Linked DNA regions of Homo sapiens: region 1 is linked to region 2. Evidence: fine-mapped expression QTL. A gene starts in region 2. The other region holds a variant in brackets. All regions are shown on one strand. Distances are between the middles of the regions.

Region 1 (4,386 bases), 540 kb after region 2:
ACCTTGGCCTCCCAAAGTGCTGGGATTACAGGTGTGAGCCACAGTGCCTGGCCAAAACCACAGAAATTTATTCTCTGACAATTCTGGAGCCCAAAAGTCTGAAATCAAGGTGTTGGCAGGGCCACATTCCCTTTGAAAGGTCTAAGGGGGATCCTTCCTTGCCTCTTCCAGCATCCAGTGGTTGCCAGCAATTCCTGGCATTCTTTGAGTGGTAGCTTCATCACTGCACTCTCTGCCTCTGTCATCATGTGGCCTTCTCCCTTGTCTGTGTGTCCCTGTGTCCTCTCCTCATCACCTAAGGACATTGAAGATGTTGGGTTTAGGGCCCACCTAATCCAGTATGATCTCATCTTAACTAATTACATTTGCAAAGACCCTGTTTCCATAGAAGGTCACATTCTTCCTGGGTGTGGTGGCTCACACCTGTAATCCCAGCACTTTGGGAGGCCAAGGGGGTGCGGATCACGAGGTCGGGAGTTCAAGACCAGCCTGGCCAACATGGTGAAACCCCGTCTCTACTAAAGATACAAAAAAAAAAAAATTAGCCAGTCATAGTGGTGCCCGCCTGTAATCCCAGCTACTTGGGGGGCTGAGGCAGGAGAATCGCTTGAACCCGGGAGGTGGAGGTTGCAGTGAGCCGAGATCGCACCACCATACTCCAGCCTGGGCGACAGGGCAAGACTCTGTCTCAAAAAAAAAAAAAAAAATCACATTCTGAGGTTCTAGGTGGATATGAATTTTAGAGATACACTAATTTTGGGGGGCTTTCTCCTAGGGGATGGTCTTCCACTGGGTGGAGGGGGTACCTGTTTCCTTGGTCCACTTTGTTCCACAGCTCATGGGTTGCCCCCCCTGGCTGATCTGGAGCTCTGCAGACACACCCGGGCAAGTGTGTTGAATGAACAGATGGAGGACTGGCTCAGGCAGAGAATCTCAGGAGGTAGCCCGGCCTAGTAGTGGTGGTAGGTAGGAGGGTGGCTGCCCGGGTGGGGAGAATTGACCAGAATTGCCCAGTTCCTAGGGGGTGTGTCTCTGACGCAGGGTGAGGTAGAGAGGGGAAAGGGATGGAGGTCTGGGTCCTGGCTGCCTGTGTGATGAAAAGAGTAAGGGAGCAAGAAGCTGGAAGCCCAGGACCAGCTTACTCTGTGACCTGAGGCCCAGCTCTTCTTCTGCACGAGGCCCCAGCACGCAGTCCCCTCAAAGTCTTGGCCTTGGGCACAGCAGCCAAGCAGGAGATGGTGCAGGATGTGGAAGCACCTCCTCATCTGCAGAAGCTCCTCAGAGGAAGAACTTCTGAGTGAACTTTATTTTAGATTCAGGGGGGACGTGTGCAGGTTTTTTACATGGATGTAGTGCATGATGCTGAGGTTTGGGCTTTTGTTGATCTTATCAGCCAGATAGTGAACATAGTACCCAATAGGTAGTTTGTCAACACTTGTCCTCTTTCTCACTCCCCCATCTAGTAGTCCACAGTGTCTATTGTTCCCCTCTTTATGTCCATGTGTCTCCAATGCTTAGCTCCCACTTATAAGTGAGAATATGCAGTCTCTGGTTTTTTGTTTCTGCCTTAATTCGCTTGGGATAATGACCTCCAGCTGCATCCATGTTTCTGCAAACAACATGTTTTTTGTTTTTTTTTGAGACGGTGTCTTGCTCTGTCGCCCAGGCTGGAGTGCAGTGGCGTGATCTTGGCTCACTGCAAGCTCCGCCTCCTGGGTTCATGTTCACGCCATTCTCCTGCCTCAGCCTCCCAAGTAGCTGGGACTACAGGTCCCCACCACCACGCTTGGCTAATTTTTTTGTATTTTCAGTAGAGATGGGGTTTCACTGTGTTAGCCAGGATGGTCTCGATCTCCTGTCCTTGTGATCCACCCGCCTCGGCTTCCCAAAGTGCTGGGATTACAGTTGCGAGCCACTGCGCCCAGCCATGATTTTTTTTAATGGCTGGTTGGTATTCCATGGTGTAGATGTACCACATCTTCTTGATTCAGGCCACCGTTGGTGGGCATCTGGGTTGATTCTGTGTCTTTGCTGTTGTGAGTAACGCTGCAGTGAACACATAAGTGTGTGTGTGGAACCTTCTTGAATGTTGCTGAGAAGTTCACTTTCTCATGACCTCTCCCTCTCTAGAAGGAGGGGTCCCCCACTAGAAGGCTGTGTCTTCTCGCTGTGGGTGGTAGGGGTCCCAAACCCAGAGTCTGGGGTGTTTGGGCAGCCCTTGAAGCTTGTGGCTGTGGCTCAGTCCAGTTCTGGAGGGGAACAAGAGTGAGGAGACTGGTCCCCACCTTTCCCCAGCCCCGGGGTCTTCAGGCCTTTTCTTTTTCACTTTTTCTTTCTTTTTTTCTTTTTTTTTTGAGACGGAGTCTTGCTCTGTCACCCAGGCTGGAGTGCAGTGGCATGATCTTGGCTCACTGCAAGCTCCGCCTCCTGGGTTCACTCCATTCTCCTGCCTCAACCTCCCGAGTAGCTGGGACTACAGGTGCCCGCCACCACGCCTGACTAATTTTTTGTATTTTTAGTAGAGACGGGGTTTCACCGTGTTAGCCAGGATGGTCTCGATCTCCTGACCTAGTGATCCGCCCGCCTCGGCCTCCCAAAGTGCTGGGATTGTAGGTGTGAGCCACTGCGTCCAGCCTTTTTGTTTGTTTGTTTCAAGGTGGAGTCTCGCTCTGTCGCCCGGGTTGGAGTGCAGTGGTGCAATCTCGGCTCACTGCAACCTCCACCTCCC[G/A]GGTTCAAGCAGTTCTCTGCCTCAGCCTCCCGAGTAGCTGGGATTACAGGCATGCGCCGCCATATCCAGCTAATTTTTGTATTTTTAGTAGAGAGGGGGTTTCACCATCTTGGCCAGGCTGATCTTGAACTCCTGACCTCGTGATCCACCTGCCTCAGTCTTCCAAAGTGCTGGGATTACAGGCGTGAGCCACTGCTCCCGGCCTTCAGGCCTTTTCAGAAGTGGCCACCAATGGTCAGGGAGGCCCGGTCCAGGAATCCCAGGCTGCCCTCCTTAGACCAGCATCCCAGGCTCTCCTTTGGCTGTGTCCCACTGTCCTAACCACAGCCACTGTCCCCACACACCTGGCTGGGCTCCTGCAGTGTCCCACCCCAAATGACTTCACTTCCTCATGGGCTCCTTCGCTCAGCCCTTTGGGTTCACATTCCTGCTCAGGAGCTGCCCTGAAGTTAGTTCCATCTTTCTGCCTGCTTGCCTTTCCCTCCAATAAGATCTTAAGGTCTTTAAGAGGAGGCCCTGCAACTCAGCAGTTCAGTTCATGTAGCTGTCACATGATGAAAGGTGTGGAAAGCAGCTCCTCTGGGGCCTTTTAATAATGAGAAGCGGGCCTGGACAGGTTAGGTGACATGGCCTGAGGACACAGCCTACTCTTAGGCAAGCACTTCCCTGGTTCTGAATCTGGGTCCTCTCCTGTCTCTTGGAACGCAAGTGGGGTTGACGGAAGGTCTTCCATTTTGCCACCACCACCATCGATCCATCCATTCATCCATCCTTCCATTCACCCATCTGTCCACCAATCCATCCATCCACCCATCCATCATCTACCCATCATCCATCTACTCATCTACCCACCCATTCATCCCATCCACTCATCTATCCATTCATCCACCCATCATCCATTCACTTATCCACGCACCCACACATCCATCCTTCCATCCATCAGTCTACCCATCCATCAATCTCTCCATTCATCTATCCATCCACCCATCCTTCCACCCAGCCATTCACCCATCTGTCTGTCCATCCACCCATCTATCCATGCATCCACCCATCCATCCGTCATCCATCCATTTATCTGTCCACCTACCCATCCATCCATCCACCCATCCCTTCATCCATCCATCCACCCACCCATCCACTCATCCACCCATCCACCCATCTATCTGTCCGTCTGTCCATTCATCTATCCACCCTTCCATTCATCCACCATCCATCCTTGCTTTCATCCATCCTTCCATTCATCAATCCACCCATTTATCCATCCATCCATCTGTTCATCCATCCATCATCCATCCATCCATCCATCCATTCATCCATCCATCCATCAGTCCATTCTTCCATCTATTCATCCATCCATCCACCCACTCATCCACCCACACACCTATTCATCCACCCGTCCATGCATCTACTCATCCATCCACCCATCCATTCATCCTTCCATCCATCCATTCATCCATTCATCCATCCTTCCATTCATCTTCTTCCTATCCATCCTTCCATTCATCCATCTACCCCTCCATCCATCCATCCATCCGTCCATTCTTCCATCCATCCATCCATTCAGCCATCCATCCACCCATTCATCTATCATTCATCCATCCACCCATTCTTCCATCCTTCCATCCATCTGTTCATCCATATTTCCTTCCATTCATCCT
Region 2 (4,386 bases):
AGCTTCTTATCTGATCACGATGCTATCCTACTTAAAACCCCAAACTCTATTGACTCCAAGGATAAAATCCTTAATCCTCACCAGAGTCTCCAAGTATGGTCAGGCCTTGCCCATCCCTCCAGCCACATCTCCCAATCTCTGGTCTCCATTCTGTTCCTCAAACGCACCGTGTTCTCTCCGGCCCCAGGACCTTTGCACTTTTCACTCCTGCTGTCTGGAATCCTCCCCACCGGTTCCCCAGGTTAACCCTAGGCTGCTCAACTGTCACTTCCACCCTGAAGGTATCAGGTTCCCTCTTTTACGCCGCTTGCTAACATTTGCCAAAGAAGTGATTAAACAATTCTTCGTGCAATTTTGTCCACTGTATGCCTCTCATGGTAATTTTGTCCACTGTATGCCTCTCATGGCAAGCTCCATGAAAGCAGGCACCTGCCACCACTCCATCACCCGAGCGCCTAGTTAAGGGGGCAGTTGGGAGGACTCAACGTGCAGCGTTTATGCATTTATTATGCCTGGATGAATGGTCTTGAATGAGTTACAACCTTGAGGGTTAATGTCCCCCATTAACAGATATGGAAACTGAGGTTCAGGGCGCGCAAGGGAACCGCCCGCAGTCTCGACGACAAGGACGCTGCCACCGGGAGACTGCAGCCCCTTCCTCCGAGCCCCTGGCAGTGCCGCCACTTGAGGAGACCCTCCAGGCCGCCAACCCACCCCCTCTAGAGCGCCCAGGAATCTGCCTCCGGGGAGGGCGCGGGGCGCTCTGGGAAATGTAGTCCTGCCAGCTTCCTGAATCCGGCGTCCCCAAATTTGTTTCCGGCGGGCTGAGTCCTAGCCGATGCTTTGGGAAAGACGCGCGAGATTCCGGGGGTAGATCCGGGATGCGAGGCGGGGCGCGCATGCGGGGCGGAGCTTGTGCGGGGCGGGGCGTACGTTGAGTGTACGCCTGCTGTGTATGCTGCGTTGCTGCTCACCCGAACTCGGTGCTGGGACTCTTTCCTGGGCACCCCAGGCAGAGGGAAACTCCGGATCATGTTCAACCAAAGAGGAAAAGCAGCGAGAATCCAGCATAGGAGACGGGCCTTAGGATGCCCAAGTTAGGATTAGGGGCAAACTACGTTAACCTGGTAGTTAGGAGCTGAAGTTCTGGAATCAAAGATTTGGGTTCCAATCCCATTTCTGTACTTCCTGTTTGACCTTCTCTGGGGGGTTCAATACTTAAAACTCTCAGAGCTTCAGGGTTTTGTTTTGTTTTGTTGAACCGGTAGGTCTAGTTATAGTACCTCTATTACTAAATGAGGAAGAAACGAAGTACAAATGTGTTTTGCTTGCTTGATGCTCAAGAATTGATGCGACCGGGAGCGGTGGCTTACTCCTGTAATCTCAGCACTTTGGGAGGCTGACGTGGGTGGATTGCTTGAGGCCGTTGGAGACCAGCCTGGGCAACATGGGGAAACCCCATCTCTACTAAAAATACAAAAATTAGCCGGACCTGGTGGTTCGTGCCTGTAATCCCAACTATTCGGGAGGTTAGGTAGGAGAATTGCTTAAAACCGGGCGGCGGAGGTTGCTGTGAGCCAAGGTCGAGCCACTGCACTCTAGCCTGGGCGACAGAGTGAGACCCTGTCTCTAAATAAATAAATACATACATACAAGAATTGATACCTGGCTGGGCACACCTGTAATCCTGACACTTTGGGAAGCTGAGGCGGGAAGATTGCTTGGGCCCAGGAGTTTGAGACCAGCCTAGGCACCATGGTGGGACTTCATCTCTAACAACAACAACAAAGATTGATGCCCATTATTATGTTGTCAGAAAGAAGCAGGCAGGACAAGGGATATTTGGGGTTGGACGTTGTTGGGGGCCCTCTTGGGGGAGGGTGGGCGCAAGCACTTGGCATCTCTTCCAGTTTTATCTTGAACAACTTCTGCCTTTATTTATTTTATTTATTTATTATTTATTTATTTATTTTTTGAGATGGAGTTTCGCTCTTGTTGCCCAGGCTGGAGGACAATGGCAGGATGTCGGCTCACTGCAACCTGCGCCTTAGCCTCCTGAGTAGCTAGGATTACAGGCATGAACCACCACGCCCAGGTTTCTCCACGTTAGTCAGGCTGGTCTCGAACTCCCGACCTCAGGTGATCCGCCCGCGTCGGCCTCCCAAAGTGCTAGGATTACAGGTGTGAGCCACCGTGCCCGGACGACTTTGCTGGCTTTAAAGATGGAGGAGGCGGCCAGAGGAGAGCGGAGCGGGTGTGGAACAGTGACTGGGAAAGTAGCCCAGAGGCTGCAGAGTCGCCGCACGCTCGCGCGGTCACCGAGGTGCTGGACTACGTTACCCACAATGCGTGCCTTTGAGGACCACATTAACCACAGTGCACGTCGCGGACCCGCCCACTCGGCCGTGTTGCCACGCCCCCAACGGCCGGCTTAGCCAATGGTGCCACGGCTACGTTACCCACAATGCCGCCTGCGGGCCCACCCGCACGGCCTGGTTTGCACCCCTGGTTTAGGGTCTTCGGCCCCGGCTCTGGCGTCCCTGGCTGCCAAGCCTGAGGCCCGCAGTCCTACTCCCGCCGAGACCCGCCGCTCCGGTCCTGCCCCGAACTGCCCACGGCCGGCAGCGCTTCCAGTGAGTGCGGGGGGCGCGGGGACGCGGGTCCCGGCCGAAGCTTCGATTTCGCGGCCCGCGCCAGCACCCGGGTCTGTGCCGCGGCCTCGGGTACCGCTCACCCTCCACCTGAGGGATGAGACGGGAAAGCAGCCCGGCCTGGGGGTCCCAGCTCTCCCAGGACCCTGGAATTGGGGGGCTGTCGTGACCACCCACGCGGGGGTGCCTGACGGGGCCGCGTAGGGGCTTCAGGGTTCGCCAGACCTGGACACCGGGGATCAAGTTGAGGCAGAGTCTGCAGAAAGGCCCTACTTTTCATCAGATTTCCAAAGGAACCCCTTCCATATAGGACCCACTCTAATCATGGAAAATAACGATTCTCGAGCTCTGACCGCAAACATCCCTTTTAGATTGTTTTTGTTTGAGTCTCTCTCTGTCGCCCAGGCTGGAGTGCAGTGGCGCTATCTCAGTTCACTGCAACCTCCATCTCCCGGGTTCAAGCGATTCTCCTGTCTCAGCCTCCCGAGTTGCTGGGATTACAGATGTGCTACCACCATGTCGGGCTAATTTTTGTATTTTTTGTAGAGACAGGGTTCCACCACGTTGACCAGGTGGTCAACTCCTGAACTCACGTGATCTGCCCTCCTCTGCCTCCCAAAGTGCGGGGATTACAGGCGTCAGCTACTGCCCCCAGCCATCCCTTTTAGTTCTGTCAGCAACCTGTGTGTGTAGGTCCTGTTATCATCTCTGTTTGCCCAGTGAGGAAGCAAAGCCCAGAGCCCTTCAGTAAATTACCCGGGAATTAACAGGGGGTTAATAACAAAGATGACATTCATCCACTTCCTTTTCCTTTTCCATGGTGGGGTGAGCTGGCCTTGGAACCAGGGCAGGGGCTTCCCAGGCCAAAGGGCTTATCCAGCCCCAGGGCTGCCCTTCAGATGGTTTTATCGTCTCTCCACAGGGCCCTGAAAAAAACTCTCTTCCTGTGTCTGGCCAGAGGTATAGAGAGAGACAGGTTCAACTCTAAGGCCTGAAAAGGAACAAGGCCCACCGGAAGCAATGGCCACTGTCCCTGGCCTCCAGCCCCTGCCAACCTTGGAGCAGGACCTGGAACAGGAAGAGATCCTGATTGTGAAGGTGGAGGAGGACTTCTGCTTGGAAGAGGAGCCCTCCGTGGAGACGGAGGACCCCAGCCCTGAGACTTTCCGCCAGCTCTTCCGGCTCTTCTGCTACCAGGAGGTGGCTGGGCCCCGGGAGGCCCTGAGCCGCCTCTGGGAGCTGTGCTGCCGCTGGCTGCGGCCGGAGCTGCGCACCAAGGAGCAGATCCTGGAGCTGCTGGTGCTGGAGCAGTTCCTGACTGTGCTGCCGGGGGAGATCCAGGCTCGGGTACGCGAGCAGCAGCCGGAGAGCGGTGAGGAGGCCGTGGTCCTTGTGGAAGGGCTGCAGCGGAAGCCCAGGAAACACAGGCAGCGGGTGAGTGGGGGCATTTTGACCCTCAGGTGAGGAAATGGGGCCCTGCTGCTGGGGTCTGCAGCTGCAGATTCCTTGGTCATTGGGTGACCAAGTGTGGCTGCCTGGCCCCTGAGCCCTTTTGAGGAAAGCAACTGCAAAAGATTTCTCAGCCTTGGCTAATGGGTGTCCACCCTTTGATTAACCTCATCCTACCCCAATAGCCCTTTATTAGCTAGTGCAGATGGTTTGTGAACACTGTCCTAGGGTAGGCCAAACATGTTTTTTTTTTTGAGACATAGTCTCGCTCTGTTGCCCAGGCTAT

Evidence for each region. PIP is the estimated chance that this variant, and not a neighbour inherited with it, causes the effect.
Region 1: its variant is the best candidate, but not a certain one, in a credible set for the expression of ZNF500 in lymphoblastoid cells (GENCORD, PIP 0.72).

Annotation. Positions count from the first base shown.
Region 1 is chr16:4,226,703-4,231,088 of GRCh38, reverse strand. The region is part of intron 1 of SRL (sarcalumenin); the gene reads left to right. Among named protein-coding and RNA genes, the nearest start is that of SRL, 13 kb to the left of the region's middle. The variant G/A (reference allele first, on the strand shown) is at 2,729.
Region 2 is chr16:4,765,264-4,769,649 of GRCh38, reverse strand. It overlaps ZNF500 (zinc finger protein 500), which reads left to right and starts at 2,488. Exons shown (of 6, transcript NM_021646.4): 1 at 2,488-2,633; 2 at 3,574-4,085. The coding sequence starts at 3,672. RefSeq lists an enhancer at 1,170-1,249 and a silencer at 2,442-2,741.